Regions from separate parts of the Homo sapiens genome. Here region 2 is linked to region 1. Evidence: fine-mapped expression QTL. Tissue or cell type: whole blood. Region 1 holds a variant in brackets; the other region holds the start of a gene. All regions are shown on one strand. Distances are between the middles of the regions. Region 1 has its middle 8.3 kb from the start of SND1-DT. Region 2 holds the start of ARF5 (ARF GTPase 5).

Region 1 (5,374 bases):
AACCATTATAATGATCTCATCCTGAGTTTCTGATATTAGAATGTGAGCTCCCAGAATGCAGAGATTTTGTCCATTTTTGTTCCCTGTTCTAGGGACAGAGCTCCAGGCAGAGGGAAACAGCTCAAAGGCTCTGTATTGAGAGCTAAAAAAAAAAAAAAGTAGGCTGGGCGTGGGGGCTCATGCCTGTAATCCCAGAACTTTGGGAGGCCGAGGTAGGAGGATCACAAGGTCAGCAGTTCGAGACCAGCCTGGCCAATGTGGTGAAACCCTATCTCTACTAAAAATACAAAAATTAGCCAAGCGTGGTGGTGGGCACCTGTAGTCCCAGCTGCTTGGGAGGTTGAGGCAGGAGAATCTCTTGAACTGGGGAGGTGGAGGTTGCAGTGAGCCGAGATCGTGCCACTGCACTCCAGCCTGGGCAACAGAGCAAGACTCCATCTCAAAAAAAAAAAAAAAGAGAAAGAAAAAAAAGTAAAAGGCCGGGCATGGTAGCTCACACGTGTAATCCTAGCACTTTGGGAGCCCGAGGCGGGCAGATTGCCTGAGCTCAGGAGTTCAAGACCAGCCTGGGCAACACGGTGAAACCCCGTCTCTACTAAAATACAAAAAAATTAGCCAGGCATGGCAGCGAGTGCCTGTAGTCCCAGCTACTCAGCAGGCTGAGACAGGAGAATTGCTTGAACCCAGGAGGCAGAGGTTGTAGTGAGCTGAGATCATGTCACTGCACTCCAGCCTGGGCGACAGAGTGAGACTCCGTCTCTAAAAAAAAAAAAAAAAAAAAAAAAAAAAGAAAGAAAGAAAGAAAGAAAATGTAAACATTACATAACTCATTGGTAGTTTAGCCTGTTTCAATTGCTCATAAAGCAACATCTTATCCTCTGAAGCACTCTTAAGAGAGCAAACTCTATTAACTGCTCTCCACTGAACAACAGAGTATGGTATAAATAGCAAATATACTTTGATGTTTCACAAAATCATTTTATATTGGAATTTATGCCACTCTCAAATGCATGAAACAAAGACTTGGAGTAAAGAGGAAAGAGATGATTTTCCACTTTTTGGTATCTGTGGTATTTGTGTGGAATGTGGCTGAAAGAGATCATTATTCTATCTGAAATAGTTATCCTTCGGGAGAATTAATATGGAGGAGAGCCAGAAAAAGGCACCTGAAAAAAATGCAAGGACCATCCTGAAATCCACCCTGAGTTGACTGTGCCCCTTCAGCTGCCACCTGAACCCTGGCCTCTTGCCTCAGCTCCTGTCCCTATCCTCTGACTCCCAGCAATGACAAATCTGTCTTGGTGGTGGTAGCTCCACCCTCAGCATTCCAGTTATCCTGTCTCTATTCACAGGCCCTGGGGCCCATTCTCTCACTTCTGGCCTTCCCCTGCACTCCTGACCCTTACCATTCATCCAGATCCTAACCTCTTTCTTTGCTTCATCTTCATTGCTCTGGTCCCTAAGCTCTGACAGCTGACAGCAGTTGTCCTAGTGGGGACGATGCCCACCCAGTCCAGAGGTCTGGCTTCGGTCTGGATCCACTCCTGGTGATTCCAGGGCCTGCCTTCCCTGGAAAGGGCCTCATCTTCAGTCTGGGGGTCACTGATTCTATAGAAATTCATCCTGTCTTCTGATTCCCAAGTCCTCCCACTTTATTTAGAAGATTGAGAACATCTAATGCGACTATCTCAACATCTATCTTCTCAAAATGTTTCTGCATCATTACATGACACCTCTTCCTTTGCTCTTGACTTTATTTCATTTATTTATTTATTTATTTATTTTGAGATGGAATTTCGCTCTTGTTGCCCAGGCTGGAGAGCAATGGCTCGATCTTGGCTCACTGCAACCTCCGCCTCCAGGGTTCAAGCGATTCTCCTGCCTCAGCCTCCTGAGTAGCTGGGATTACAGGCATACTCCACCACGCCCAGCTAATTTTGTATTTTTAGTAGAGACGGGGTTTCTCCATGTTGGTCAAGCTGGTCTCGAACTGCTGACCTCAGGTGATCTGCCTGCCTCAGCCTCCCAAAGTGCTGGGATTACAGGTGTGAGCCACCGCACCTGGCCTGCTCTTGACTTTAAATGAGAACTGTTTTGCTATTAGAACTCCTGTTAGTAGATGGGAGAGCTGCCACCAGCCTCAGTCTTTGGATGATTATGTGAGGAAAGTCACCATCCTGGGCTGTTGTGTGAGAAAGAAATACACCTTTGTATTATCTAGGTCACTGAATAATTAGTTCTTTTGTTCCCACAGCCGGCCTCCCTTATCTAATATACAGGAGCAGGCTATAGTTAAGGCATGTGTGGGCACTGGAAGAGGTGCAGACACATTCTATTGTTGGCAGAAGTTAAATAATATTTATGATTCCATGAACTATACTATGTTGGGATCCATCCAATGATAGTAACCCCCACTAAGATCCCTAACTTTCACCCTAACTATACCTGACACTCTTAGGTTCAATTTCCAGAAATCACAAAGGATATATAACAGATATAAGGAATGCAAAGAGAAGGTAAATAAGTCATCTCAGACATTCAAACAGACTGAATACTTCAATTTAGTTCAAAATACAATTATTGAGTGCTTATTCTTTACAAGGCAGTGCCAGGCCTATGGAGAACACACAAGTTAACAAGATTCATAGGAGCTTATTGCCAAAAAGTTTACTGGTCAGTTCAACTGTTACACAAACAACTATGACACGAGGAGAGTGCAGTGCACACCACCAGAAAGGCATTATCCAAAATGTCTGGGGATAAAGGGGAAGGAAGAGTCACTTCTGATTGGAGGCCTCTCAGATAACTTTATGGGAAAAGCTGTGTCTGAACTGAGC[C/T]GTAGAACGGCATTCCAAGTGGAGGGAATTGGGTGTAGGCAAAAAACCAGGGACAGAAAGCTCTAGGTGTATTTGGGGTGAGATTTTTAGTGTGGCTATTGCTGCTGGAGCCACAGTAAGCAAGAGAGGGCAATGTACACAGGGTTATGTCCTTCAGTGGACAGGAGGCCTTTCTGCAGGCACAAGATAGCAGAGAAGTGGAGGAAGCCGGTGGTCCCGGGCCTGCACGTTCCCCGAGGCAGGCCTTTAGTACTGGGAGCCCTGGACCAGAGACAGCAATCATGAAACACACGCTTACTGCTTTTGGCTTTTTGGTTCTGGAGAGAATGAGGGGCCAGGATTCTGTCTTGAAAGAGAGAATGGAGGCCAGATGCAGTTGGCTCACGCCTCTAATCCCAGCACTTTGAGAGGCTGAGGTGGGCAGATCATGAGGTCAAGATATCGAGACCATCCCAGCCAACATGGTGAAACCCTGTCTCTACTAAAAATACAAAAATTAGCTGGGCATGGTGGCATGTGCCTGTAGTCCCAGCTACTCGGGAGGCTGAGGCAGGAGAATTGCTTGAACCCGGGAGGTGGAGGTTGCAGCGAGCCAAGATCGTGCCACTGCACTCCAGCCTGGCGACAAACAGAGCGAGACTCCATCTCAAAAAAAAAAATAAATAAAGAGAGAGAGAGAATGGAGCTTGGGAATAGGCCAGAGTTCTAGAAAGGCAGAATTGGCCAGAAGAAAAGAAGAGGCCCAAGGTTCAGGCCACCCTAATACCCATTTCTGATTCCCTCTCTCGTCAATCAAAATGCCTTCCCAGCCTCCCCTGCAGCAAGGAGAGGCCTTAGGCCTTAGGATGGGCACTTCTGGGAAAACTTGCTCTCCTGATAAAAATGAGCAGACGTTTCTGGCATTGGTCTTTTCCCTCTTCTTTTTGTTGCCTCCTTCTCCTCTTCCTCCTCCTTTTCCTTCTTGTTCCAGTGTCTGGAGCTGAAGCAGCTATTTTGCAACTACAAAGGAAAAGCCAAGGAAATTGCTGAGATGCCTGCACTGAGATGGTTGAACTTTTAAACAAATACCTCCAGCTTCTTGATCTGTAAGAGAAAAATGTATAGTAGTGCTCACTGTAATCCGCAGTTTTGCTTTCTGCAGTTTCAGTTACCCACAGTCAATTGTGGTTCAAAAACATTGAGATATTTTCAGAGAGTAAGAGAGAATCATTCATATAACATTTATTATAGTATATTGTATAATTGTTCTGTTTTCTTATTAGTTATTATTGTTAATCTCTTACTGTGCCTAATTTATAAATTAAACATACATAGTTATGTATATATGCATAGAAAAAAACAATATATATCTGCAATTACTGCAGTACTATCTGCAGTTTCAGGCATCTGCTGGGGGTCTTGGAACATATACCTTTCAGATAAGGGGGGACTTCTGTATGTTTATGCCATGGTTAATCTAGTTTGCTGTTACTTGCTGAAACTTTAACTCTGAGTTTGCTGACTTTAGGACCGACTTCAGGATTCTGGGGAGAGAAAGGAATCTTCATAATATCTTGATCATCTCAGTTTACAGAGTCTCAGAACAACATGCTACCTTATAATAAAAGTGGTACAATTGCATAAAGTTTTTTTATGCCTTTTTTCTTAGAAATTTGTGTAGCAAGCAAGGTTGGGAGTGATAGAACGTGACAGTGGCCAAAGCCAACAGCTGCAGCAGGAGCGAATTAATATACAATTATCTAAGACTACTGAGAACCCAGAGGCATTGATTAATGACATTTGGGAGAATAGAATGAAGTTTGGCCTTGCCATTAAATGACAACAGGACAGGGTACAAAGTTGATCCACTAACTAAAAGTTTTGTAATTGTTACCCAATCATAGACTTATATAAATGAGGATTACACTTTTGTAAGTCCTTTACATTGAGTTATTATATAGATAGGGCAAATTGGGAAGAGCGCATTATTATCCTTATGTTCAAATAATTTTTTTCTACTATGAGGTTTGAGAAATAATGTCTAAGCCTAAAGCATAGGATTTTTTTTCTTTTTTCTTAACAGTATGTGTGCATTCCACTTTTAATGTTACAAACTAAACTTTTTTGTTGTTTCTTAAAACTTTTTTTAAATGATGGGTTATGCTATTACTCATTTTAACCAAGTTTGGGCTACACAAAGCATACAGAAATATTTTTTAAACCTACATAGAAGATTATGGTAACAGATATGACAGCAATATTCAAATTTAATCACCTAATCTGATGCTATGCAATAGTCACTAGCCATATGTGTTACATTGATTAAAATCAAATAACATTAAAAATCTACTTCCTCAGTTGCACTAGCCACATTTCAAGGGCTCATTAGCTGGTGGCTACTGTGTTGGACAGAGCACATATATGGCATTTTCGTCATTGCAGAAAGTTCTTTTAGATAGCACTGGTTTAGACAAGTTGGGTTTGTGAGGCTTTTCTTTTAAAAAAATATACAGTGTATCTTGACTCCATCCTTATTAGTTGTTGACCTAGAGTTGGCT
Region 2 (5,374 bases), 55 kb before region 1:
CGGTGGGTGGGCGCGGCCTGTTGAGAACGCAGTGGGGCCGCGAGCGGCAAAAAACAGGCTTGGGAAAGGCGAAGCCAGCAAAGTCGAAGACACCAGAGTGGCACCGGTTTTGTGAGAGCGCCCAAGCTTGACCTCGGGCTACGCTCAGCGAGCGACAGAGCAACGTCGCACTGCATTCTTACCAAACACCCAGGTGAACGACGCATCCAACGATTTGGGAGCTCAGGACCCATGGTCCCTAAAAGGCAACAATTAAGACTCCCATTTAGACCACGAAAACTGCAGTCCTCTATAGCACAGTGCTTGGTACCTAGTAGGCATACAGCCTAATAGTACCCTTCCTTAGTTCTGCTGAGTTGATTCCACAAATATTTACGGAGGGCACTCTATAGCCATGTCTATCCTGAGTGCCAGCTATATACCAGGAGCTCACAAGAGTTTTGCTATTTAGTCTTTACAGTAATTCTTGTAAGCACTATACTCATTAGCACTATTTTACAGATATGAAAACATGAGGCAGAAAGGTTATACGTAACATGCCCAAGGTCACACAGCTAGTAAGTTTAGGAGTTCTAATCAGTCTGATTCTCAACGTATCACGTGCTGTGCCAGATGGTAACACCATTAAGAGACACGACCTTGCCCTCAGGGAGCTCGCAATCTAGTGAGGAACCAGACATACAAATATGTCCTGCTATCACACCAGTATGTCTGGGTATATTCAAAGTGGTATGAAAGTTAAGAGGAAAGAGGCCTGTCTAGGTGAGGCATGGAAGGCTCTTGGGAATAATACTTTGGGATTTGAAGGATGAGTCGTGATTGTCCACCTAACCAGAGATCAGGGAAACTAGCATTCCAGGCAGGTGGAAAAAAATGCAAAGACCTGTAGGGTATCGGAGTTTGACTCACCCAGAAAGCATTCAGTAGCTTAGGGTATGTGAAGGAGGTGACAACAGAGGGGCTGGCACAATAGGTAGGGACCCAACTTATGGCATTTAAATTTTATCTTGGGTTATAGTAAGGCCCTAATGGATTTTAATCTGAAAAGTGGGATGTCATCAAGACTTGTATGACATGTTGGAGGGAACAAGGGGCAGGAAACCTGTGAGGAGACTTTCAGTCATGGGGAACAGAAGGTAGTGACAACAGAGATGGAAGCAAAGAGGCTGATAAAAGAGCTAAATGTAGAATTGACCTAACTTGGTGAACACTAGTTCTGTTATTATATTGGAACTCTCTAAAATGTACTCTTCAGCCTCGTAAAAGCCTTCTTAGGGATGCAAGTCTATGACTGAAGAGAAAAGGAAAGTCATTCACTCACTCATACCTGTTTCCCAAAGTCTGTCCTTGTTACAGACTTTGCAGATCAGGATGGGGCAGGCCCTGGAGGTCTGTTCAGACCCCGTTTCTCAGTGGCCCAAATAACATCAAGCTGTATTATACATAACATTCAGTCACATTATCAAATCATTTTAAGATTCACCATAACCCCTTAAGTTAGAACAAGTCTCATTTTATAGATGATGAAATAACGGAAGAGTTATGAGGAGTGCTGAAGCCAAATCCTCAAGAAATGGCAGAATTAAGATTTGAACTAAAGCCTGAAATCACGTGCTGGCAAGTGGTGGGTGCTCAGTAAATATCTGCTGAAAAAGCAAATGAATGAGTGAAGGTTTTTTTATTCCCAGCTCAGTTTACCTCGAGTCCATAAACAATTGATCCTAGAAGCCCACTGGGAATCCAGAGTAGACATAACACCTACCCTCGCTCCATTGAGAATCTATCAGTCCAGTTCAACTGAACAAGCATTTGTTAGGCCTAATAATGCCTGGCAATGAGCCAGTCTCCACCGCAGAAGAATTTCATTCCTATTTTGCTATTCTCCTCTCAGATGTTAAAATGAGGCAGGGAAATGACATGTGAAGCTCTTTGGGTCTACGGAGTCAAGATCTTCACAAAATCCTGAATGGATGTGCAAGAATAAGCCAGGTCCACAAGTCTGTGGCAAAGTGAGGAACTTCGGCAAAGCGGCCAGCGCCTGGACTGAGAGGCGGGGCCCGCAGGGCGATCCAAACGAAGGTGGACTTCTCCAACAGCCCAGGAGTGGGTCTGTGACCCCGCCGCCCAAGGCCGGGAATCTTACACTGGTTCTGCGGATTGGGAATTAGGAAGTAGGCGTTTTGAGGAACCATGGAAGCTAGCTAGCACTCGGGCACCTTCCCCTACCTCCCGCGCACTCTTCACACGACCACCTACTACGCGCAAGTCCCTCGGTGGAAGATGAGGCAGTAAAGGGAGGACCAAGACCCCTAATCGCAGCTTCCACTCCCCAAAGGAGAGTGGTGCACACGTTCAGTGCTACTGGTTCCCAAGGGCTAAAACCGGAGCCCCTAGGGGCCTGGACGCAACAAACCAAAGCCCAGCGGCCGGCCACTGAAAATGGGGGCAGGGGCCGCTGCGGAGCGATGAATCCTTTCCTCAGCCGCGCTCGGGCTGCCGGTTCGGCGGCCACAGGCCTGGCAGGCGCGTTAGAGACCTAGACCCGTTCCCAAGTAAGGGCCGCACGGGACCCAGGCCAGCAGCGGCAACTCGCGGAGCTTCAGCTCCCCTAGGAGCCAGAGCCGGGGGAGGCGGGGCCGAGAGCCGGGGGCGGGGCCCGGACGGGGGCGGGCCCGCGGTGACGTCGGGAGGGCAGCGACGCGCGGAGGCGGCGGCGGAGCCTCCTCCTGCTGCTGCTGCGCCCCATCCCCCCGCGGCCGGCCAGTTCCAGCCCGCACCCCGCGTCGGTGCCCGCGCCCCTCCCCGGGCCCCGCCATGGGCCTCACCGTGTCCGCGCTCTTTTCGCGGATCTTCGGGAAGAAGCAGATGCGGATTCTCATGGGTGAGGCAGATCGAGCGCGCGGCCCGGACCGGGGCGCCGGCCCCGGCGCAGCCCTTCCGCCCCCGCGTCCCTCCAGCCCCGCTCACCTGGGTCTCTGGCCCCGAGTCACCCACCTCATAACGCCCCGGGGCCTCTGCTCTCGGGCGGGTCCCGGTCTGCATCGCCGACCCCGGGGCCTGACACCCGGAGCTGCGGGCCTGGGTGGGGTGAAGCTCCCTCCGCCCCAGCCCGGCTGGTAAGAAGGGAGGATTCCGCCCTTGGAGACGACTTTTAAAACGAGCGCGGCCTACCTCCCGTGCCCCTTGCCTCCCAGTCCTCTCCCGCTCCGCGCCCTCTTTGGAGTTGGCTCACGCCACCCGACTGCCCTCCAGGCCTCAAAGGTAGATAACGACGCGCACCTGGAGGCGCTCCCGCTCTCCGCCCCAGTCACCATCAGCTGTTGTGGCCTCTCCCTTTCCCTGGTCTCTAGGGGGCTCCCTCGCTCCCATCTCCATCCCTGTGCCCCTTTCCGTTGCAGTTGGCTTGGATGCGGCTGGCAAGACCACAATCCTGTACAAACTGAAGTTGGGGGAGATTGTCACCACCATCCCAACCATAGGTGAGCCCGGGGACGAAGCAGGGAGCGGGAGCGCCGCGGCGGGCCCTCGCGGGGTCTGCTCCCAGTTCTGCCACTTTTCTGGAGCTGACCCTGACACCAGATACAGCTATTTGAGAAGTGGGTCAGGGTATCTCTACGTGGATACCGGAGGCAGGGTGGATGTGACCTAGCCCCGCCCTGTTGACCGCCAGTTCTGGGGTTCTGTTCCCCTGGGCCTTGATCATTGCCTTCTGGTTTTGTGTCCCTGCTGAAATCTAAGTAGTTTTAGTGAGTTCCTTTCTTTCAGGAGTTTTCTCATCTTTTTTTTCCAATTATCTGCAGGCTTCAATGTAGAAACAGTGGAATATAAGAACATCTGTTTCACAGTCTGGGACGTGGGAGGCCAGGACAAGATTCGGCCTCTGTGGCGGCACTACTTCCAGAACACTCAGGTGGAGTGTTGGGAGGGGACTTTCTAACCCCACGGGAAAAGGTGTTAGGGCTGGGAGAACAGAATTGTTGGCCTAGGCTGGGCCCCCAGGCCAAGGAAAAAACCCTTCCCCACTTCTACCCCTTCTGTTTGGCTATCCCCTACTCACTCTTCAGAACTCACCTTAGTCTTCCCCAGCTTGGACTTCTCTTTAGAAGCAGGATTCTGGGACCAGGCTGCCTGATTTAGCCCTCATAACATGTCTTTATTTCCTTGCACATCTTTGGATAAACTACTTCCTCTTTGCAGTGGGGTCTCTAGTTTGTGCCATGACTCCTGTAGAGCTTCTATAGAGTTCTGTAAACTTCTGTAGAGTTTACTAGATGAGAAGGATTGACACAATTACAAATGGGAAGAAAACAGAAAGGGCCACACTACGGTATGTCCCAGGCAGAAGTGATTGCTTCTCCTTTCTTCCTTCCTTCCTGCCCAGGGCCTCATCTTTGTGGTGGACAGTAATGACCGGGAGCGGGTCCAAGAATCTGCTGATGAACTCCAGAAGATGGTGAGTACCCAGAGCCCTGGGAACTGAGCCCTCAGCTTGGGGACAGAGTGATCTCTGTAGTGGTATAGAAGTCAGGGAGCCCCCAACAGGCATTGAAGACCAGGAATATAAGTTTTTCTTTGTGGACAGACACATTGTGTATCTCACCCTGTTTTGGATGGGAGTGACTTTTTCACTTTTTCTGTGCATTGTCTTGTCTTTTTTTTTTTTTGAAATGGGAGTTTTGCTGTTGTTGCCCAGGCTGGAGTGCAATGGTGCAATCTCGGCTCACTGCAACCTCCGTCTCCCGGGTTCAAGCAATTCTCCTGCCTCAGCCTCCCAAGTAGCTGGGATTACAGGCGCCCGCTGCCATGCCCAGTTAATTTTTGTATTTTTAGTAGAGACGGGGTTTCACCATGTTGGCCAGGCTGGTCTTGAACCCCCAACCTCAGGTGATCCACCCGTCTTGGTCTCCCAAAGTGCTGGGATTACAGGAGTGAGCCACTGCGCCCGGCCGCATTCTCATGTCTTTACATCTGAGTCTGAGAAGTTGTGGGAGAGATGGGACTTATATGTGGCAAAGAGAAACATTTTACATTCCTGCCTTTTCCATTTGGAAATGTTGTCATTTTGCCTAGGCAAGTACTCAAATTAGGAAAAGGTCTTTCTTTTCTGGACTTATGGGCTCAGGTCACCTCAAGCTCATTTACAACTATGTCTTGTCTTCAACGGCAGACTGCACAATACTTTTTTTTTCCAATCAAGATGCTAGGAGGTAGAAAGGGAATTCCCCAACACAGTAGAGGAGACGCAGCCTGGGTCCCACCTTCTCTTCTCCTCTCTCAGCTGCAGGAGGACGAGCTGCGGGATGCAGTGCTGCTGGTATTTGCCAACAAGCAGGACATGCCCAACGCCATGCCCGTGAGCGAGCTGACTGACAAG

The links.
Region 2: ARF5 starts here. The variant in region 1 is fine-mapped to the expression of ARF5 in whole blood (TOPMed, PIP 0.97).

The regions. Positions count from the first base shown.
Region 1 is chr7:127,640,808-127,646,181 of GRCh38, forward strand. No RefSeq gene overlaps it. Among named protein-coding and RNA genes, the nearest start is that of SND1-DT, 8.3 kb to the right of the region's middle. The variant C/T (reference allele first, on the strand shown) is at 2,838.
Region 2 is chr7:127,585,685-127,591,058 of GRCh38, forward strand. It overlaps ARF5 (ARF GTPase 5), which reads left to right and starts at 2,727. Exons shown (of 6, transcript NM_001662.4): 1 at 2,727-2,881; 2 at 3,399-3,479; 3 at 3,801-3,910; 4 at 4,382-4,453; 5 at 5,279-5,374. The coding sequence starts at 2,815. LOC105375490 (a long non-coding RNA gene) reads right to left here and starts at 4,162. Exons shown (of 5, transcript XR_007060511.1): 1 at 4,072-4,162. It overlaps LOC105375489 (a long non-coding RNA gene), which reads right to left. Exons shown (of 3, transcript XR_007060513.1): 3 at 4,185-4,267. RefSeq lists enhancers at 1-260, 1,548-2,174, 2,175-2,800, 2,801-3,427, 3,428-4,053 and 1 more and a silencer at 2,564-3,053.